Regions from separate parts of the Homo sapiens genome. Here region 1 is linked to region 2. Evidence: fine-mapped expression QTL. A gene starts in region 2. The other region holds a variant in brackets. All regions are shown on one strand. Distances are between the middles of the regions. Region 1 has its middle 18 kb from the start of PATE3. Region 2 holds the start of HYLS1 (HYLS1 centriolar and ciliogenesis associated).

What was found. PIP is the estimated chance that this variant, and not a neighbour inherited with it, causes the effect.
Region 1: its variant is fine-mapped to the expression of HYLS1 in whole blood (TOPMed, PIP above 0.99).

Annotation. Positions count from the first base shown.
Region 1 is chr11:125,799,957-125,811,954 of GRCh38, reverse strand. No RefSeq gene overlaps it. Among named protein-coding and RNA genes, the nearest start is that of PATE3, 18 kb to the right of the region's middle. RefSeq lists an enhancer at 8,672-9,173. The variant G/A (reference allele first, on the strand shown) is at 5,689.
Region 2 is chr11:125,881,893-125,893,890 of GRCh38, reverse strand. HYLS1 (HYLS1 centriolar and ciliogenesis associated) reads right to left here and starts at 6,223. Exons shown (of 3, transcript NM_001134793.2): 1 at 6,126-6,223; 2 at 2,419-2,468. PUS3 (pseudouridine synthase 3) reads left to right here. Exons shown (of 4, transcript NM_031307.4): 4 at 1-406. The coding sequence ends at 106. LINC03136 (long intergenic non-protein coding RNA 3136) reads left to right here and starts at 11,036. Exons shown (of 2, transcript XR_007062935.1): 1 at 11,036-11,998. RefSeq lists silencers at 5,646-6,035, 6,136-6,185, 6,276-6,325 and an enhancer at 6,466-6,515.

The sequences.
Region 1 (11,998 bases), 82 kb after region 2:
ATCTAATACCTCAACCTATGAAACTACTACAAGAAAATATCAGGGAAAGTCTACATGACACTGGTCTGGGCAAAAATTTCTTGAACAATCCCCACAAGCACAGGCAAGCAAAGCAAAAATAAACAAATGGCATCACATCAAGTAAAAAGCTTCTGGACAATAAAGGAAACAGTCACCAAAGTGAAAAGACAACTACAGAATGGGAGAAAATATTTGTAAACTACCCGTCTGACAAAGGATTAATAACCAGAATATATAAAGAGCTCAAACAATTATATAGGAAAAATCCTAATAATCCTATCAATAAATGGGCAAAAGATTTGAATAGACATTTCTCAAAAGAAGACAGAAATGGTAAACGGGCATATAAAAAGTTGCTCAACATCATTGATCATCAGAGAAATGCAAATCAAAACTAGAATAAGATATCATGTCACCCCAATTAAAATGGCTTATATGCAAAAGACAGGCAATAACAAATGCTGGCAAGGATGTGGAGAAAAGGGAACTCTCATATGCTGTTGGTGGGAATGTAAATTACTACAACCACTATAAAGAACAGTTTGGAGTTTCCTCAAAAACTAAAAATACGGTTACCATATGATCCAGGAATCCCACTGCTGGGTGTATACCAAAAAGAAAGGAAATCAGTATATTAAAGAGATATCTGCAGTCCCATGTTTGTTGCAGCACTATTCATAATAGCCAAGCACTGGAAGCAACCTAAATGTCCATCCACAGATGAATGAATAAAGAAAATATGATACTTATACACAATGGAGTAATATTTATCCATAAAAAAAATGAGATCCTGTCATTTGCAACAACATGGATAGAACTGGAGATCATTATGTTAAGCGAAACAAGCCAGGCACAGAAAGACAAACATTACATGTTCTCACTTATTTGTGGGATCTAAAAATCAAAACAATTGAACTCATGGAGATAGAGAGTAGAAGGATGGTTACCAGAGGCTTGGAAAGATAGGTTGTTGGGGAGGAGGTTGGAATGGTTAATGGGTATAAAAACTAGTTAGAAAGAATGAATAAGACGTAGTGTTTGATAGCACAACAGAGTGACTATAGTCAATAATTATTTAAATTTATATTTAAAAATAACTAAAAGTATAATTGGATTGCTTGTAACACAAAAGATTAATGCTTGAGGGGATACATACTCCGTTTTCATGATGTGGTTATTACTCATTGCATGTCTGTATCAAAACATCTCATGTATCCATAAATATATACATCTGCTATGTATCCACAAATAAATAAAAAATTTCCCAGCAATGTTGTGTCTGGAAATAACACTAAACATTCTCCTCGGAAAAAAACTTAATTCTGACACTGCAAGTAACCAAGCCATCTTTGTTTAGATGTAGTTTAGTGCCATGCCTTTTTATATTCTTTTATTAGATTTTGAAGCATGAAAAGAAAAACCTATCCTTATTTTCAAAACATGAAATATACAAAGGAGCAAAAAGAACCCAAAACATAAAACATCTATGAATCCATCATAAGAGGAGACTCCTGGTCAAATTTCCCTTTATAGATATTAAGTCTTCTTAATATTACTATCATAATTTTTCTATTTATTGATAAAAATAGAAATAACTAATTGTAATTTTAACTATTTATCTCAAGCATATAACTTCAAGATCTATGTGTATTTTTCTCAGAAATATAAGGTTCAGGTTATTACAGCAAACAGAATACTTGATACCTGTAAACTTCATGTGAAACGTTTACTGTTTAATATTCCTTTTATTAAAAAATCAAATGATGTAAGGGAGTTATAATTACAGCTTTAAGAGATGTGATAAAAGAAATTATAACACTACCACTTTTGAAGCAGATATCCAGTTATAGGTAAAATCCTGTGTGCCTTGCCCCTACAAATGAAGAAGATTCACATTTTCTAGGACATACGAAAATGAAAACAACTGCACAACTGAGAGATGAAACTTACATGGTGATTGCTTTGTGTAGAAAGTTTTAAAAATTAGTAAAATATTTATGAATAATCTCTAAATTTCATTTCATTAAGAATGCATGGTTCAGTGTTTATTTCTATAAAAATTTAAAGAAAAATATGAGAAAAATCTGCATGAATTTTAATACATAAAAATAATGTTCTGTGGGGTTTGAAATGTATATAAAATTAAAATACATGACAATAATATAATATTACTTGGAAAAATAAATGGAGTTAAGATATTTTGGGGTCCTCTTATTATCCAAGATACAGTAAAAGTACTAACTTATATGAGAGTTACCATTGGAAAAGTAACAAGAGTAACCATTGGAAAAATAGTAAAATATTTGATAATTCCAAAGCAAAGAGAAGGGGGATACTGGGATAACAAAAAAAAAGATACTTAATCCAAAAAAAGACAAGAAGGAAGAGAACAGTAAACACCAAATAAGTATGATAAATAGATAATAAGTACTAATATGTTATATTTAAACTTGAATATATCAGTAATAAGCTAAATATTCCAATTTAAATATGAGACAGACTAAAACTTTAAAAACAGCATATACTGTTTACATAAGACACAGTATAAGGATACCAAAGTTGAATGTAAGTGGACTGCAAAAATACAGTATATAAACACTATCATAAAACCTTGTAGTTACATTCATAGCAAAACTGTAGACATTAAAGGCTGAAAGCATTACCAGAGATGAATATATGGGTAATTCATGATGATAAAAAGATCAATTTATCAAAAATATATAACAGTTCTAAACTTCCATGCACCTAATAACATAGCCTCAAAATATAAAAAGCAAAAATTGGCAGAACTAAAAGGAGAAATAGACAATTTATCTTTTGAAGATTTTTACATGCTCTCTCAGTAATAGATAAAATAAGCAATAAAAAAGTAAGGATACAGATGCTTTGAAGACCATATCTTAGAAAGTTGACCAAACTGACTTATTTAAAATATGAATCTAGCAACTGTAGAACATATTTTTTTCTAAGTGCACATTGAATACTCACAAAAACAGACCACATTTTGGGACATAAAGAAAATCTCAATAAATTTCAAAGACCTCAAATCACATAGACATGTGTTCTCAGACCAGAGTGCAATTAAATTATTAATAACAAAGGTAACTCCAGAACCATGAGCTGAATACATTTCTGTTCACTATAAATTACCCAGTTCTGTTGCAGCGATAGAAAATGAATTAAGACAGCATGTGAGGGATGCCCAGTCCTCAAAAATATTCAAATATCACCTCGTATTCTACGTACTCATTGATAAAAGCTGATTGTTTTTAATCGATTGGCACAGCCCTGTAACAAAAAATGTTAAGGAGAGATAAGAGTTTGAGATCATCACTGTAGTTTTCTTAACAAAAATAATGTTATGAAATAACAATAATTAATCCCAGAATTATTATTGGTTGACTTTTGCTTTACGTTCTAAAAATGATTTTAGCCATCCTATGTATTAGACTCTACAGACACTATGATATGTATTTTTTTAGCTTATAATTATATACACACATATGTAATATTATCCCAGGATTGGTCTCATCCCTATTGATATCCAGGATTATGACTGCTCATTAGTTTGTGTAATGTTGTATTTATATAAGTAGAATTAAATATTTAAATCTACAAATAAATTTAAAAATATTTTCAATATATGTATGATGAGATTTCTCCCAAATTTTATAATATTTGGATGAATACTGTACTTTAACATCTTGAGAAATAGAAAGTAGATTCTTTCATGCAGGGTTGATTAATTAGTTTAAATGGACAGAATGAAGATGCTGGCAGTAGGTTCTAAAAATGCAATGATTCATGGTATTTACTGGCTCTGAGCCCAGCCCAGCACCAGAGTTCCCTAGGAAGTGCAGTCCTTGTGTCCCTAGACTGCCTTTCAGTTTTGCCTAGGACCCCAAAGCACTTTGGCTTGCAGTGACAAGGCTTGCGGAGAAACTCAAGTTCTAGCTTCTGGGATGGTTGATTACCCTCTGGCTATGGCTGGTCCAAATTGTTCCCTCTGTACACAAGTGCTGGCTAAGCCCAGCATGGCTTTACTCTCCTCTGTGACAGGACAGCACTGAGTTCAATGCGAAGTCACCCAGTTGCTGCGATCTCACTCCCCCAAGTGCACAGGGTCTCTGTGCTACATGGCTACTGCCAGAGGATGGGAGAATGGTAGTTTCAGCAATTCAAGGCTGTCTCTTCTACCCTCTTTAATGCCTCTTTCAGTGATATAAAGTTAAAACCAGGTACTGTGATTGTTCGAACAACCTGATTTTTGTTCTTGTGATGATGCTTTTCTGTGTGCACGTAGTTGTTAAAATTTGGTGATCCTACTAGAGGGACAAATGCTGTAGGCTTCTTTTCTACCATCTTGCTCTGCCCTTCTCTGTGTATAATTTAAATGATCCATAATTAATTGAAAATTTTATTTTTACTTTTCTTAATTTTTTTTTCTCTTGGCCGGGCCTGGTGGCTCATGCCTGTAATCCCAGCACTTTGGGAGGCCAAGACGGGTGAATTGCTTGAGCTCAGGAGTTAAAGACCAACCTGAACAATATGATGAAGCCCCATCCCTACAAAAAATACAAAAATTAACTGGGCATGATGGCATGCACTGTAGTCCCAGCTACTTGAGAGGCTGAGGTGGAAGGATAGCTTGAGCCCAGGAGATTGAGTCTGCAGTGAGTTGTGATTGTACTACTGTACTCCAGCCTGGGTGACAGTGAGACACCATCGCAAAAATCTGTGTGTGTGTGTGTGTGTGTGTGGATTTATGGATACAAGTGCAGTTGTGTCACATGAAATATATTAGTCTGGGCTTTTAGTGTACTATTTGCTTATATATTGTGTTTTTAATGCCAGGTTACCCTGCCTCCTGGCCCTCAGTCAGGGGAAACAACTCCCAATTGCTGTGAACAGCAACTGAAAAGAGGCTGTGAGTCATGAAGGCTGAAGTTGACTGCCTTAGAATTCTTGGGTTGATTTTAAAAGGCTTTGCTTAGAGCTATCAACATAGTACTCTGAACTTTCAATTAGGACATATTGGAGGCAGCAGTATAGTTTATGAAGCTCTGTAAACCCTTTTACAAAAACATGTAACACTAGGATAGCAAAGGGAACATGCCATAGACAAAATCAGGGAACCAGGGTTCCCCAAGCCCTTGGATATCTCAGATATATGGAAATATGTCACTAAAATTCCTTTCACAAAATAGAGCTTGATCCTTAGGAAGAAAGGAACTGTTAGTAGAAACAAAATTGAGCTTGGTATAAAGACTGAGATTATCAGAGAATATAATGTTTCTTTTTTTGTTTTTTTTTTTTTGTTTTTTTTTTTGAGATGCCCAGGCTGGAGTGCAGTGGCGCGATCTTGGCTCACTGCAAGCTCCACCTCCCAGGTTCATGCCATTCTCCTGCCTCAGCCTCCCGAGTAGCTGGGACTACAGGCGCCCACCACCATGCCTGGCTAATTTTTTGTATTTTTGGTAGAGATGTGGTTTCACTGTGTTAGCCAGGATGGTCTCGGTCTCCTGACCTTGTGATCCACCCACCTCAGCCTCCCAAAGTGCTGGGATTACAGGCATGAGCCACCGCACCTGGCCGAGAATATAATGTTTCTGTATGTACATGTATTATCTAGCTTTGAACATGGAGTGGACATAGAGCAGTAACACC[G/A]CAATAGCAATGGGCACACCTAGCACCTGTATTTTCGTTTCTAAATATCCTTTCCCATTAAGAAGAAGTAGGTAGGGCTCCTTGCAGGGAAAATACAAAATGAGCCTGGAATATTTAGGCCAGGGCTGAAATAAGGAAGTGTTCAAAGAATGGTGGAAATGCTGAAAGGATATTGAATCAAGCTTAAAGGGACTCTCACTGGCCAAAATTGAGCATCAAAATAAATGTTATAATGATCAATATGACTCATTGAACAAAATAGGAATGATTATACTTATGTAATCAAATAGGTAAATAAGGAGAGGAGAAAACTTTTCCTTACAGTAGATTGCCAACTAATAAATTAGATTCCATCTAATAAACACTGAAGGAGTATTGAAATTGGAAAATCACCATCTGACAAAAATGCTAAGAAATAATTCATTAATTCAGGCAAAAATGCTAAGATTATCACTAACTTATTAGTGTTAACAGATGATAAAACTTGTAAGTGATAAAACTTGTTGGTGAAAATGGAAAGATACTGGGACATTCACAAAGTCTGAGAACCTCACCAGAAAATAGTTAGCAATTACAAAGGGAAAATGAGTAATTTTACAGAAGATAAATAATTTTAATTGTAATTAATTAACATCACTAGTAAAGAGATAAAATTATGTGCCCCTAGATAGAATGCACTGAGAACACAGCACCACTTCGGCGAAATTTTTGTCAAAGACCTATTATCTGTATGTAATCATGCAGACATGTTGTGCAGGCCCAGTTTGAGGGGAATTATGTAAAATACCAGCTTATAATTTTAAAAGTATTAAAGCCATGAAAATAAGACTGTGAACCTATTCCAGATTAGAGGAGACTAAAGAGACATTGCAAATAAATGCAATATCATGATCCTAGATTGAATTATTTTGCTATGAAAAATATTACTGGGAAATTGATAAAACTTGGATGGGGTCTGTGGATTACATGATAGTAATTTGTCAATACTAATTTTGTGATTGTGATGATTGTATTGTGGTTATAAGAAAAAATATCTCTGTTTTTAGGGAACACATAGGAAAGAGTTCAGAAATAATGAGGCATTGTATTATTAACTTGTATCATTAGCAAGTAGTTCAGAAAAAAGACATTCTTTGTAGTATTAGAAACAGTAACTCTTCAATCAAACTATAATCAATCTAAAGTATATGATTTAGCTTAGAGTTTGGCTGTGTTAAATACAATTTGAGAAAAATATATAGAAAAGCTTAGAATGGAGATGGCTAGAAAACCAAAAAAAAAAACACTGTAAGAGATATGTTTGAAAATACTTGTAGAAAACGTTTCAGAAATGAATACTGTGACTTCTGGCTCTTGGTTATAATGTGGAGAGTTGTTGGAAACAATGCGTGCCTTTGAAATAACCAGAAAGGTGGATAAAATAATAGTCAAATATTTATTATTATTATGTTTTTGAGACAGACTCTCGCTCTGTCACCCAGGCTGGAGTGCAGTGGCAAAATCTCGGCTCACTGCAACCTTTGCCTCCTGTGTTCAAATGATTCTTCTGCCTCAGCCTCCTGAGTAACTGAGATTACAGACACACGCCACCACGCCCAGCTAATTTTTTGTATAAATAGTCAAATATTTTAAAATGATATGAGAGGTGTGTGGATTCAGAATAAAAAGAAACTCAAATTCCAGAAAGGAAGACCCCCTTCTAAGGTGAGCAGAGATGAACAGGAACTTTAAAGATATCTGCCAAGACTTTTCACAGTTAATAGAAGAACAGATTTGCCATAGACAGAGAGACTTTTTGAACTTAAACCAACCAAAGCTTCAAAATAGTCCTGACCCTGCTCAAATCTGATGTGATCTTGGTGACGAATTCCTCCATGTATCTGCTTCACAAAGAAAGGAGTGTGCTCTCTCTAGGGGAAGATAATGCTTTCTACAATGTTGGGAATATAATAAGAATTTATGTGACATATGAAGAAGCAGGAAAAAATAGGTAATAGAAGCAGACCAGATGTTGAAATTATAACATGATGACTTTAAAATAACTATTAAGATATATTAAATGAGAGAAAAAAATGGGCAAAATGAAAATATAAATAATTTTAACAGAGAAATAGAATGTATTAAAAAGAACCTAATGGAAAAGTGACTAGCAAGATGACCATATAGGACACTCAAATGATCACCACTTGCAAAAGCATCAATTTAAACAACTATCCATCCATGAAAACACCTTGACAAGAGCTAAGGAATTCAGGTGAGAGATTATAGAACCTTAGTGGAGTACACAAATAAGAAAAGATGGATTGAAGAGAGTAGGAAGAATAGTCTCGCATTACCCATATCACCCCTCCCCCAAGCCCAGGCAGTACAACATGGAGAAAGATACCCTCTGCATGGGGTAAAGAGAGTGAAATAAACACCCAGTGTCACCGCAGACCTTGTATGAGCCACTCCCCCTACCCCCGTCAACCCCAGTATCAGGCTCTCCTCCATGGCTTCAGGCTCTGGGCCAGCCCCCATGGACCTATGCTCCAGGTTTGCACCCACAGAGCCAACCATCAGTCTGTCCCCCAACATCCAGACTATAGACTTTCCCTTGTGGCCTCAGGACTCAGGCTACTCCCTGCAGACCCAGACTCCAGGCTACCACCTGCAACCCCATGCTCCAGGTTTGCCCCAATGCCATATTAGCCCCTGTGGACTCAGGCTCTATGCAAGCTCCCACAGGCTCAGGCTCCAGGTCCACTCCAATGCCAGGCTGACTCCTATAGCCCTAGCTTTCAGTGGCACCAAGTTCCAGGCCTGCTTCAGTGGATCCAGGGTATAAGGCCACTTGAGACCTCAGCACTGGACTGGTCCACATGAACCTAGTCTCCAGGATCACCCTTCCAGACCAGATTTCAACATGATACCTTCAGATCAGAACCTAGATCCACCACTATGGGCTTAGGCTTATTGCCCACTCCAGTGCTAGAATGGCCTCCATGAACCTAGGCTCCAGTCCCATGCTTGTAGACCCAGGCACCGGGCATGCCCCAGTGGACCCTGGCATAAGGCCAGCAGACTCAGGACAAGGCCAATTCCTGTGGACCCAGGCACCTGGCTCACCTCATTGTTAGGCCAGCCCTCTTGGACTCAGGCACTAAGATCTTCCACTTGATAACCCAGGCACCAACCCGGCACCAAGATCTTCCACTTGCTAACCTAGGCACCAGCCAGCTCTCCTGAGGACTCATGTAATAAGCCTGCTCATAGACCCTGCCAGGCAGCATACCGAGAATCCTTATATGTGTTAACTGGTAAAGGGCTTTACTGGCCAAAGCCAGTCTGTAAAGACTGGAAGAAGTGCATAGTTCTTCAAATGTACAAACACCAACATAAGGCCACAAGAATCATGAAAGATAATAATAACACCAGCAAAGGGAAAAAAAGAAGTGTCAGTATATGACCCTAAAGTAATGGAGATCTATGAACTGTCTGAAAAATAATTTAAAATCATTATCTTTAAAAAACTGAGTTACAAGAGAACACAGAACTAAACAAAATCAGGAAAACCCAATACATGAACAAGATGAGAATTTCAACTGAGATAAAAACCTTTAAAAAGAACCAAACACAAATTCTAGAACTGAAGAATACAATGACTGAAATAAAAAGTTGAATTGAGAGCTTCAATAGCAGACTCAATCAAGCTGAATAAATAATTGGTAATCTTGAAGACAGGTCATTTGAAATTACCTAATCAGAAAAACAAAAAGAAAAAGGAATTAAAAAGAATGCAGAAAGCCTACAGAACATATAGGACACTGGCAAGGAAATTAATTCACATGTTATGGGAGTCCTAGAAAGCAGAGCACGAGAAAAAGATGGAAAGCCTTTTTTTTTTTTTTAAAGAAATAATGATAGAAAGCTTCACAAATCTGGAGAAGTAAACATCAGATCCACAAATCCCAAAGAACAAAGGTTTAAATACAAAAAACCTTCTATGACCACATTGTAATCAAATTCTCAAGTAAAAGACAGAAAATTTTGAAAGCATTTGGAGAAAATAAACTCATCATATAGAAGGGATCCTTTGTAAGACTATTAGTGATAGTCTCAGTGGAAAACTTGCAGGCCAGGAGAGAGTGGGATGATATATTTAAAATGCTGAAAGAAAAAAATACTTGTCAACCAAAGATACTATACTCAGCAAAACTGTCCTTCAGAAATGAAGGGGAGATAAAGACTTTCCCAGAAACAGAAGCTGTGGGAGTTTATCACCAGTAGACCTGCCCTAGAAAAAGTGCTAAAGAGAATGCCTTAAATTGAAAGAGAAGGATTCTAACATCATAAAAACATATGAGAGTATAAATCTCACTATAAAAGTAAGAATATAGTCAAATTCAGAATACTTTAATACTGTATTGGTAGTGCATAAATCAGTTTTAACTCTAGTAAAAAGTTAAAAGACAATGACATTAAAAACAACTGTAAGTACAATAATTTGTTAATTAGTAAACAATATATAAAAGATGTAAATTGTGCATCAATAAAATATAATGTGAGGGAAGAAGAAGGTAAAGTGTAGAGTTTTTGTATGCAGCTAGTTCAGATTTCATCTGATTAAAATAGGCGGTTCTAATGATAATATGTTTTATGTAAGCCTTGTGGTAACCAGGAAGAAAAAGTCTGTAGTAGATACACACACACACACACACAGAGACAAAGATAAAGGGATCAAGGCATATCACTACAAAAAATCATCACATCATGAAGAAAGATAGGAAGATAGTACAATATGATATTTGGATATATATATAAATTGTGAAATGGTTAAATCAAATTAACATATCTGCCTCATATACTTGTTATGTTTTGTCATTAGAACATTTAAGGTCTACTTTTAGCAGTTCGTAAGTATAAACTACATTGTCATTAGCAATAGTTACTATGCTGTACAATAGATCTCTGGAATTTATTCGTCTTGTCTGACTGAAATGTTGTAACTCTTTGATGTTTCCTGAAGCCAAGATTCCCCACACAGATTGTGATTGCACAGTCCAAAGACAGAGTGCAGTCTCTGTGCAAAAAAAGGACTGCAGAATTTGTGCATGGGATTTCTCTCAGATCTCCCAGTATTTGTCTGCACTGTTTCATTTGCTGCAGTCTTTTATCTTTAAATAAAGACCTTATTAAGTATGCTGTATGAATTTATATGTTCCAAAGAGAATAAGTGTGTTCTATGAAGTCTGGTGGCTCTTTCAAATATCTGAACTTGAGAAACCTTTGCAATGCCTCAAACAAATACTTGATAACTTCCAAAAATAGAATTAACATAAGCAATATTCACTTACTACAGTGCAATAAACTAGATGCTGAAAACCAATCCAAAAAAGCACTGCAAGCTGGAAATGTAGCAACATACTATTTAGCAACTCTTACATCAACAGAAAAATTTAAGACAAAAATGCAGAATTTTTTAATAGCAAGTATAGGGAAACATAAAATATCAGAAATTATAAAATATAGCTAAGGCATTTTTCAGAGAAAAATTCATAGTATTAAATATACGTAAAAAGAAAAAAGAAATAACAAATACACCCAACTTAAAATAGTAGACAAAAAAAACACAAAATAAAAATCAGAAAGAAGAAAAGGTGTAGCAAAATAGAAACTAAAATATATAAAAAGCAAGAAAGAAACTAAATCATATCACCAGAGAAAGTCACCTTCACTAGAGGAAGACAGAAAGGAAATAAAGAATAAAGAGAAGACCAAAAAAAAGCCAGAAAAAAAATAACAAAATGGCAGGAATAAGTCCTTACTTATCAGTAATAACATTGAATGTAAATGGACTAAACTCTCTGATCAAAAGACATAGACTGGCTGAGTGGATGAAAATACAAGACTCATTGATCTGTTGCCTGCAAGAAACATACTTCACCTACAGAGACACACATAGACTGAAAATGAAGAGATGAAAAAAGATATTCCATGCCAATGAAAACCAAAAAAAAGCAGGAGTTGCTGTACTTATATAAGACAAGATAGATTTCAAGACAAAAACTAGAAGAGGCAAAGAAGAAGTGATATTATTATATCACTACATAATGATAAAGAGATCAAGTCTGCAAGAGGCTATAATAATTTTAAATATGTATACACCGAACACTGGAGCACTCAGATATATAAAGGAAATATTATTAGAGTTAAAAAGAGAGATAGACTTCAATACAATAGTAACTGCAGACTTTAACACCCCACTTTCAGCACTGGACAGATCTCCCAGATAGAAAATCAACAAAGAAACATAAGACTTAATATGCAC
Region 2 (11,998 bases):
AAAAGCCAAAAGGGACTGTAATGACACACTAGAGGAAGAGAATACTAATTTGGAGACACCAACGAAGAGGGTCTGTGTTGACACAGAAATTAAAAGCATCATTTAACCATAGACAATTTGCCAGGATCTAGGAACCACCTAATGGTAGGTGGACAGAAAAGGAAAAAAAAAAAAATTTACTTGCAAGTACTAGGAATTCAGATGATCAGCTCTTAAAAGAAAAAAAAAAGCAAAAAGACTAAAGCCCTATTAAGGAAGTTATTGCTTTAATAAGAAATTTCAAATATTCTCTTATCCCGGTCCAAAAGGATTAAGCGATTAAAGAACGTAAAATGGAGATGTATTTACATACACCTGGAAACCTGTGCCTTGTATTCAAATTCATTAAAGCCTAATCCTGCAAGTATCTGATTTGTTGTGTTTTTCTCTCCAAAGCAGATAAGATATTCACTACTCATCTGAATTTTCATAAAGTGCTGCATCTGAGTGTCTTATTTTCTAAGACAGAATTTAAGAATATTAAATTCATTTAATTAAAGATTGGATAAATTGGTTTAATGCCAGGCACAAAGTTACCTACCTGGAATAAAGCACAGTACCTTATCTTACAAAGCATATAAATCTAGTGCAGAGGTTGGTAAATGTTTTCTGTGAAGGATTAATGAGTAAATGTTTTAGGCTGTGTCAACAACAAATGGCCTCTATTGCATACATGTTTTTACAATCCTTTACAAATCTAAAAAGCACTCTTAGTTCATGGGCCATGGTGTTTGCCAAGCCTTGGGCTAGTGACTATAGGCAAGTTCTTATAGAGGAGATATTGAAGCTAGATCTTGCAGAACAAGTGGGAGCCAGTTAAAATGAGGATAAAGAACCACTTTAAATGTGTCTAAGTCAGAAGATCCAGTTTGTATAAAGGGTTAGAGATGACAACATATGCATTCAGGCAGCTCAATTCTTTAATACGGCTTGAGAGTGACAAGAACATAGTTTAAAAAGGTAAGCACAGGTCACATTTGTAGAGCAAAGACATTCCTTAAAAAGCTTAGATTTTGCAGGGCCACTGAAAAAATTTACATGCCCGATAGAATTGTGTGGCAAAAATATTGCTCTGAGTATTCTGTGGATGGGAAGAGGGCAAGATTGGAGGCACTGTGACCAATTAGGGGGCTGCTGGAGTAATGGAGGCAATAGATGATGAAAATGGCCTAGAAGAGATTTTTAGTGAGGCAAATGGACAGAAGTAGATGAATTTAAGATTAAGAAAGTAGAAACAACAGGACTCAGTGAATAAATATGCTGTTCAAAACTAGGGAGGCTTTCTAGATAACTCCTAAGTTTCAGATGTGAGCAAAATGAGTGGCTGGTAGTACCACATACTGAGAGAGGAAAAATGAGATAGAGCTTTGCTTGTTCTCAAAGTTAATAAGTGATCCTCAAAATATTACTTGTGAACACCAGTATTTATTCAAAAGAACTCAGAGTTGTCTTAAATACATTATCCTTTGCAACCATAAAAATAATAAACATCAAAGTTTGAACTCAGACCTTCTTCCTCAATAATAATTTTCATTACTAAAGTGAGTGTTCACCACATTTGGAATTTTTACAAATGCCACCTCAGAGAATGAGTAATTTTGCAAACTTACATTTGAAGGCTTCTTGTTTATTTTACCTATGATGACTGTCTTGACTTATGTAGTCACTAAATTCTTACTCTTCTAGATTGGATAGTATAATCTAGTCAACCTTGAAAGATTTTACTTAAGATCTAAGACCCTGATCCTCTAATTTACAATTCTACCATGTTTATGAGATCCAAAGTTTTACTTACCAACCAATAATTAGTTTTTTCCTACCCATGTTCAAGACTTCAGGTATACAAATATGTTTTCTATCCTCAAGCTGCTAGTGCAAATAACACATGGGACAATTAAAAACAATACTAATATATAAATCATAAACTAATGCTGCATAATTGCTACAGAAGGGGGGTGGACCACAGAAATAGACTTCACTGAAACAGTTCCAGATTTAGGAAGTAAAATAGCATACAAAAGGTGAGGTGACCCTGTAGTACTAAAAAGTACATTATAATAGCTGTTATATCCTAGCAGACAGGGAACCAGAAAATACCCCATTTTAGAGATGGGGAATTAGTGGTACAAATTACTTAAGATTTATTCAAAATTGCCCATTGTATGATCCAAGTCTTCTGGATTTGAATCATTATCACTGCTTTTTGGGACCCAGTCTATCAACACTTCATTATGTCCTGAGTATTCTTAAAATATAATTACTTTGGCCTTTACTTTTGATTTAAAGATCCTCTTTTTCATGTAATCAATGATCATGGTGGAATAACTTAAATATGTAAGTGCAAACCAAGGTTTTTTTTTTTTTTTTTCAATTTCTTACCTTATTTCAATGTATCTTGATTGGTATTTACATTCAAGTAAAAAAAAAACCTAGAAAAGAAGAATAGAGTTTAAAAAAATTAACTCTGAAGCAGTGATACATGGAACAAAATGCACTAACCATAAGTCATTGTTAGGATACTGTGTAGAAGCAAAGGAATCAGAAGATCAGGGTCTTAGATCTTAAGTAAAATCCCTTCAAGTCTGGCTAGATTATATTATCCAATCTAGAAGAGTAAGAATTTAGTGACTACATTTTTGGTAGTTGCCATAGAAAAAGTCAAGACAGTCATCACAGGTGGAACAAATGGGAAGCCCCCAAATGCAACTTTGCAAAAGTACTTGCTCTCTTAGACAGCATTTGTACAAATCCGAAGTCTCTGGCCCATGGTAAGGACTAAATAAATGTTGGAATAAAGGAACTATTTAGGTTGTGAAATTTAAATGACACTTTTTATATATTTATACATAAATAACGATTTGTGAGACTCTGGGCTAGGAGGATTTTTGGCAGTAAAGCCAAGAGTTAGTTTTTTTTTTTAATGGCATGTGTCCTACTATACAGTGATTAATGTGTTATTTCCTCTGCATTTCAACTGTGTCACACTCCTATTTTTTTCCTTGAACATATGAAGATGATGTTTGCAAACAATAAATAAAATAGAAACTTTAATAAGGTCCATAGGTAACTGTCAGTTCCTTCTCTTTCTAATATAAAAGATCGAACAATCCTTTCTCTTTAGAGGGAAACTTTCACATAAAAGCTAGAGCAACTTGTATTCTGTAAACACAGACAACATTGACCGAAATACCTAACCATATCTTCTCTTCAAAAGTCTTAGTGACTCAGCATCCTAGGGTTAGCTAGTTACAATCAAAAGGATTTCAAGGGTAGAAGGGGCAAAGACTTCAAAATGAGATAAAGGGACTGGGTCAGTAGACTGCTATAGGGAGGCTATTGCAGAGTTATAACAAATTTCTCCACCTCTGGGGAGGTAAGCAAGCAGCTTAAAGAATCACAGTATTAAAACAAAACAAAACATCCTACCACAAAGGCAAACAATACCATAATGAAGGCAAAAGAGACAACAAACTGGGAGAAATACTTGTAACACGTTTAAAAATCAGTAATTTGAATTCCTCTTAGAAAGCTATTAAAGGGTACACATTATCAGTAAGATAGGGGAGAAAAGACAGATGCCGTACCAAACGAATAATAACTAACAAACAGCTGGGCGCAGTGGCTCATGCCTGTAATTCCAGCACTTTGGAGGCTGAGGTGGGAGGATCGCTTGAGGCTGTGAAGGAGTTCAAGACCAGCCTGTGCAACACAGCAAGACCCCCATCTCTCAAAAAAAAAGAAAAAAGATTAGCTAGGCGTGGTGGCATAAACCTGTAGTCTCAGTACTATGGGGGCTGAAGCAAGAGGACCGCTTGAACCCTGGAGTTTGAGGCTGCACTGAGCTATGATCTGGCCACTGCACTCCAGCCTGGGCACAAAGCCAACGTCTGTTTCTAAACAGCAACAAAAATTAATAAACAGAAAACATGTTCAATTTCAGTAATGTGTATAAAAGCATTAAGACATCATTTCAGATTGATAAGATTTTTTCAGTACCCGGTGCTGGCAAGTGTGTGAAGAAATAAAAACAAGCATCCTTATTATGCCCTGTGTGTTGGGGATAATCCGTTTTTCCAGAGGGCAGTTTGGCATTATTATTATTGTTGTTGTTTTTTGAGACGAGTCTCTCTCTGTCGCCCAGGCTGGAGTTGCGGTGGCCTGATCTCGGCTCACCGCAACCTCTGCCTCTCAGGTTCAAGCGATTCTCCTGCCTCAGCCTCCCGAGTAGCTGGGATCACAGGCACCTGCCACCACGCCCGGCTAATTTTTCTTCTATTTTTAGTAGAGACTTGGTTTCACCATGTTGGCCAGGCTGGTTTCAAACTCCCAATCTCAAGTGATCCGCCCGCCTCCGCCTCCCAAAGTGCTTGGGATTACAGGTGTGAGCCACCGCGCCCGGCCCAGTTTGGCATTTTGAATCAGAATTTAAACTGTACCACAACTTCTAAGTCATAATCCACTTCCAGGAATTTATTCCAAGGACATAAATTGGACAAGAATGCAAACATGTATACATACAAGTGACCACTACCATACCATTTTATGATTATGAAGAGACTGGAAACAAATGTACATTAGTAGGGGACTGGTTAAATAATATATGATACAATACAGCCATAGCAACAAACGCCACGCATCCATTAAAAATGGTAATGCGTATCGACACTGACAGAGAAATGTGTTCCCAATTTATTACTGACTCAATAATGTATAATCTGCTTAACTGACGTTCTTTTAAATTAACATACTTTATTATATTTGTAACATGCAATTATTTAAAACACATTTTATAAGGAAATCACATAAATATAAGGTATATATTATGAATATATCTGAAGTAAACCTAAATGTGAACAGTGTTTGATGGTTATCTGTGACTGATGAAATTTCGAGTATTTTCTTTCTTCTTTACACGTACTAAATGTTGCTCGGATTGCTAAAAACATGTACATACTATGTTTGCATTCTTGTCCGATTTATGTCCTTGGAATAAACTCCTGGAATTGGATTATGACTTAGAAGTTATGGTACTACTTGAATTCTGATTTATGTTTTTCTTTTCTCTTTTTTTTTTTTTTTTTTGAGACAAGAGTCTTGCTCGGTCGCCCAGGCTGGAGTGCAGTGGCGCGATCTCGGCTCACTGCAACCTCTCCCTCCCGGGTTCAAGAGATTCTCCTGTCTCGGCCTCCCGAGGAGCTGGGACTACAGGCGCCCGCCACCAAGCCCGGCCAATTTTTGTATTTTTAGTAGAGACGGGGTTTCACCGTATTGGTCGGGCTGGTCTCGAACTCCTGACCTCACGTGATCCGCCCACCTCGGCCTCCCAAAGTGCTGGGGTAACAGGCGTGAGCCACCGCGCCCGGCCTGAATTCTGATTTATAATGCCAAACTGCCCTCTAGAAAAACAGATTATCCCCAGCACACAGGCCATAAAGGTGCTTGCTTTCATTTCTTCACTCTCTCAGCAGCATGGGGTACTGAAAAATCTTACCAATCTAAAAAGATATCTTAATGTTTTTCTTTGCCTGCTTAGTGAGATTGTATACTGTTTAGAATAAAAAAGATTTATTTCCATTTCGGGGTGGACAAACACCTTGGACGGTTCCATGCTGCAGTCCACAAAAGGTGCAGCTAGAAGGCGACAAGACACGCTCCGCCTTTCAACGGCAAAGCTCGCAGTCGCCCCGCCTGGCCGTGGGCGTGGCTTGGACCCAGGTCGCTAGCGGCCTTCGGGACTCCCCTCCAGCCCTGGGGCCGTCCCCGGCCTCCGCCTGGTCCCAGGGGCGCGGCCCAGGAGCTCAGAAAGGCCACCGGGGCAAAGACCGCGGCGGCGGCCAGCGCACACCGTGACCTCCAGGGGCTGCGGCCCGCCGCGCACATCGCCTGTAGCTCACGCTGCCCCGGCCGCCTCCCTCAGGAACGCAGACGTTGGGGACGGCTCGCCAGGCAGGACCTGGAATCCACGGAGGGAAGCTGCCACTCTGCACCGTCCCGACGGTGGGAAAAGGAGCGAGGGCTCCCGCCGCAGTGGGCCGGCAGCCACCAGGTCCCCGCGTCCCTCCGCTTCCGGCCTTCGCCCGGCTTACCCGCGTCGCGGAAGTCCGCTCTCTGCACCGCGTCCTGCCAGTCGCCAGCAGAGCACCGCAGATTCTGTTAGCTTTCGCGTAACTTGCGCAGGCGCACTGCCGGCCCACGCGCCGAGCCTGCGGTTAACCGCCGACCGCTGAGGTTTAAATCCGGAGAGCGAACCGGCACCCTTGGCCCGGTCCGCCCTCCCTCTTATTGGTCCTGAGGGTAAACGTCCTCCAAGTCTGTATCCTGATTGGCGCACATTTTGTCTGGGCCTTCTCCGCCGGCGGGAGCATGCCCGGGATTTCCAATGTGGCCTTAAAAATATCCGAGCCCGCCTAGCTGAGGCGCGCAGGCAGCAGCCGTTGCTGCGACGCCTCTGGTGTACTAAATCTGGAGGGGAGGTTGGGCCCTCGAAGAGAAGGAGAAGACCCTCAAACCTTGGCTAACGGCGACATAGCTGGCTTTTTGGAGAGGCCGCCTAACGGTCTGCCACTTCATTGGAATCAGCCTCCGCCCTTCTCAACTGGCTGCTGCGGGGCCAGTGGTGCCGGGAGACGAGGGCGGGCGCTCAGGGACGGTTCGAACAGTCTGGGGTGAGTCCGCCTGTGCGCTCTAGACGTTTCCTTGGGGCCTGAGAGAGCGGCTGTATGAAACCCTGGCGCACTGAGCTCTTCCTTTCCTCTGCATGGTGTGCAGGGCCCTGGCGTGACCCGTGGCTGCGTCTCCACAGCTCCTCCCACGTTACTCTAACTGTGCTCCAGCCACCGACTGCCTTGCTCCGACATGCACTTGTTTTCTTTTGGAATGTGCCTGTCTCCTTCACATGGTGTTACTCTCAACTTTTTTTTTTTTTTTTTTTTGAGACGGAGTTTCCCTCTTGTTGCCCAGTTGCCCAGGCTGGAGAGTAGTGGCGCGATCTCAGCTCTCTGTAACCTCTGCCTCCCAGGTTCAAGCGATTCTCCTGCCTCAGCCTCCCGAGCAGCTGGGATTACGGGCGAGCACCACCATGCCCGGCTAATTTTGTATTTTTAGTAGAGATGGGGTTTCACCATGTTAGTCAGGTGATTCTACCCCCTCGGCCTCCCAAAGCTCTGGGATTACAGTTGTGAGCCTCTGTGCCCAGCCACTAATTTTTTTTTTAAACCCGATGTTTTAACTCTTTTTGCATCTGTACCTGTAAAAAAAAAAAAAAAAAAAAAAAAAAAAATCTAGTGCTTGGGGATTGCTGAGGATGAGATCTGTAAAAGCAAGAGGAGAGGCCCTCAGGGTTCAATATCCTAGTCAATACCAAGCAAACCTATCTCAACTGGTCTTGAGTCCTGAGCATTGCATTTTCCACCTTAAACAAATAGGTGCTAGTTGTCAAGTTCATCTTACACCATTTCTTAAATCCAGGATTCAGTGGGAGGGGAGAAATGTTTAATCCTTTTCCTCCAAACACTTCGTATTATCTCTTACTCTCCCTCTTTGCCTCAGGGCCTTTGTGCTACCTCTAAGGCACTTTGAATTTGTGGGAGGAAGAAAATGGAAAGAACAAAGGAGGGAAGATGACAGAAGTAGGTTGTGGAGATTTGAGTGACTGCCCCTACATCTGCAATATCATAACACTCCTTTAGTGCAGCGGTCCCAACCTTTTTGGCACTAGAGACAGGTTTCATGGAAGACAATTTTTCCATGGCTCAGAGAGGGGGTATGGTTTTGGGATGATTCAAGCGCATTACATTTATTGTGCACTTTATTTCTATTATTATATTGTAACATATAATGAAATAATTATGCAACTCACTGTAATGTAGAATCAGTGGGAGCCCTGAGCTTGTTTTTCTGCAACTAGATGGTCCCATCTGGGGGTGATGGGAGACAGTGACAGATCATCAGGCATTAGATTCTCATAAGGAGCATGCAACCTAGATCCCTGGCTTGCGCAGTTCACAATAGGGTTCACGCTCTTGTGAGACTCTAACACCCCTGTTCATGCGACGGAAGGCAGAGCTCAGGCAGTAATGCCAGATGGGGAGTGGCTGTAGAAACAGATGAAGCTCCTACGGCTTACCCCCTGCCTTGCGGCCTGGTTCCTAGGTGCCTGTCCGTGGCCTGGGGGTTGGGGACCTTTGTTTTAGTGCATATATTCTTTTCTTTCCATAGGAGCAAATTTAATATGCTCAGGTTTTATCTTATGCCAGCATGACTTTTTCTTTGGCTTTGAATCTCCAATCTGTCTTAGAAACCAAAGAGTAGATGGAATCATTTTTCTTCCAGCTTTGAACATCAGCATTCTCCTTATGGATCCCCCAGTTCGTTTCTTTTTCTTTTTTTTTTAATTTTTTTTGAGACAGAGTCTCTCTCTGTAGCCCAGGCTGGGGTGCAGTGGCACGATCTTGGCTCACTGCAACCTCCACCTCCCAGGTTCAAATGATTTTCATGCCTCAGTCTCCTGAGTAGCTGGGACTACAGGCGTGTGCCACCACACCCAGCTAATTTTTGTATTTTTAGTAGAGACAGGGTTTCATCATATTGGCCAGGCTAGTCTTGAACTCTGACCTCAAGCGATCCGCCAGCCTCCACCTCCCAAAGTGCTGGGATTTCCAGCGTGAGCCACTGTGTGCAGCCCCAATTAGTTTCTGTTATCCTTTTTATTAAATTTTGATCTTTGAAAACGTTTAATACATAGCAGCTTGAAGGATCTACTCCTGAATATTTCATATTGCAAGTGGTATCTTGTGTTCTACCCAACCCTGGTTTTTTTGTGGATTGCTTAGTCCTCCAATTTTTCTTAGATCTGATTTAATAATGCTTGTGGTTCCCAGAAATCTACTGAACCCCGGTCAAACCTTAAACAAGAAACTTTAACCATGACCACTTAAAATACAGTATATAGAGAAAAATCCTACTCTGCAAACCAAATCTCATCTTAAAAATTTGTTATGGAAAATTTCAAACAAATGTTAAAAAACCATACATAATGAAGCCCAGTGAACTCAATACCAGATTCAGCAATGATTAACTTATGACCAGTCTTGTTGCTTCTATATCACCACATACCTTGTCTTGTATTATTTTGAAGCAAATACTGAGTATCTGAAATCTAAATATTTCAGTATGATCTCTGAAAAATTAAAGGACCTTTTAAAAGCATAACATAATACTATTTTTGTTTGTTTGTTTGTTTTTGAGACGGAGTCTCACTCTTTCACCCAGGCCGGACTGCAGTGGCGCTATCTCAGCTCACTGCAAGCTCCACCTCCCGGGTTCATGCTATTCTCCTGCCTCAGCCTCCGGAGTAGCTGGGACTACAGGCACCCGCCACCGCACCCGGCTAATTTTTTGTATTTTTAGTAGAGACAGGGTTTCACCATGTTAGCCAGGATGGTCTCGATCTCCTGACCTTGTGACCCGCCCACCTCGGCCTCCCAAAGTGCTGGGACTACAGGCACCCGCCACCGCGCCCGGCCAACATAATACTATTATCACACCTAAAGTAGTTAATATATTTTCTTACTATCATCAGATATCCAGAGTTCAATTTTCTACTTGTCTTTCTTTTTTTAAAGTTTGCTTAACTGGGTCAGGATCCAGTCAAATCCACATGATATGTCAAATCCATATGTTCTTTAAGTTTCTTTTATTCTTTAAATTTCTCCCTCATTTTTTTCCTTGCAATTTATTTGTTGAAGGAACCAGGTTATTGGCCCTGTACAATCTCCCACAATCTGGATTTTGCTGATTACATCTAAGCAGTGTAGTTGAATATGGCTTCCTTACCTTTTGATTGCAACACAGCTCTCTTCCTTATGCTTTCCCCAATTAGGTGTTGTTGGTTTATCAACTCATCAACTTCTTTATGAACTCAAATATTGCTTTCAACTGGTTGTATCATCATGCTTGTTAACCACTCTTTTTTTTTTGAGACAGAGTCTCGCTCTTGTCGCCCAGGCTGGAGTGCAGTGGCACGATCTCGACTCACTGCAGCCTCCGCCTCCCGGGTTCAAGTGACTCTCCTGCCTCAGCCTCCTGAGTAGCTGGTATTACAGGCGCGTGCCACCATGCCCAGCTAATTTTGGTATTTTTAATAGAGACAGGGTTTCGCCATGTTGGCCAGGCTGATCTTGAACTCCTAACCTCAGGTGATCTGCCCGCCTTGGCCTCCCTCCCAAAATGTGAGGATTACAGGCGTGAGCCACCACGCCCGGCCAAGTTAACCACTCCTTTATGATATCTTTGCTTACCTCACCTCTTTGTTGACATTTTCAGACAAACTTTTCAACTATAGTCCTCCCTTGTCTGACTAATTACATCCTGTCGCTAATATTTTCAATTCTTCTCTGTTTAAGTCTTCTCAGTATTGGAGGCAGAACAATAATGGCATAAAGAATAACAAAATGAAAATAACCAGCTTTCCCTTGAGACTGCTGCTCCCTTCTGTCAGCCTTTTTGTCCATTCTCTCTTCCCTATTTTGTTTGCTCAGTTGCTCCTTAAGTCCCTGCATTCTGGATTCTACCCTCATCAGTATATTCAAACTGTACTTTCAAAGGTCACCAGTGATCTTGGTAGTCAGCTCCAATCGTCTTGCTCAGCCCTCATTCTTTTTTACTTCTTAAAAGTATTTGATAAAAAGGCGGGGCGCATTGGCTCACGCCTGTAATCCCAGCACTTTGGAAGGCTGAGGTGGGCGGATCATGAGGTCAGGAGATCGAGACCATCCTGGCTAACACGGTGAAACCCCGTCTCTACTAAAACTACAAAAAATTAGCCAGGCATGGTGGCCAGCACCTGTAGTCCCACCTACTCGGGAGGCTGAGGCAGTAGAATGGCGTGAACCTGGGAGGTGGAGCTTGCAGTGAGCCGAGGAGATGGCGCCACTGCGGTCCAGCCTGGGCGACAGAGCAAGACTCTGTCTCCAAAAAAAAATAAATAAATAAAATAATAAATAAAAAATTTAAAAAAGTATTTGATAATCAATTCTGCAAATATTTAATGAACACCTGTTGTAAGTGCTGTGCTATGTCTTCGTGATTTGATAGTGAATAAAAAGACACAATTTCTGCCCTTATGGAGCTTTTGGTCTGATAGGAGAAATTGACATTGATGAAACAATCACAAATTACAGTTGTCCCTCAGTATAATCTGGGTATTGGTTTCAGGGCCCCTGCATATACCAAAAATCCATGCATACTTAAGTCCTAAAGTTAGACCTACAGAACCCACTTATATGAAAAGGTTGGCCCTCTGTATACCCAGGTTTCATATCTCTCAAATACTGCATTTTCCATTGCCTTTTGTTGAAAAAAATTCACGTATAAGTGAACCTGTGAAGTTCAAACTTGTGTTGTTCAAGAGGCAACTGTATTATAAAATTACAGTTGTGTTCAATGCTAAGGAAAGGCAAATGGTTCAATGAGAACATTTAATAATAGGGAGATTTGGCATAGTGTCACTGAACCAAGAATTGAAGGATAAGTAGGTGAAAGGACGTGGAGGGAAGTGAAGAGGGTGAAAGGAGTTTGCTAGGTAGTGGGAAAAGCATACTCAAAGGTCTATAAGAATGGAAGAGTCAAGAAACAGAAAGACCAGCAAAGAAAATAATGGTAGAGATGAGACTGAGAGATAGGCAGGGGTCAAATCATGCAGGTCCTGTAGGCCAAGGCAAGAGATTTGATAAGAGCTATAGAAACTGAAGTGTTTTAAGCAGGGTTGGGGCATGGCTAATTAGTCAGATAAGGGCTACATATTCAGTTTTGCATTTGAAATTATCTGTTGGCAGCACTGAGGAGAATGGATTTGAAGAGGAGAAGATTGTATGTGAAGTCCAAGTGGGAGATAGTTGGATTATTCCAGGTGGAAGACTGTGGTGGTTTAGGCTAGGAGGATAATAGCCAGAGATTTCAA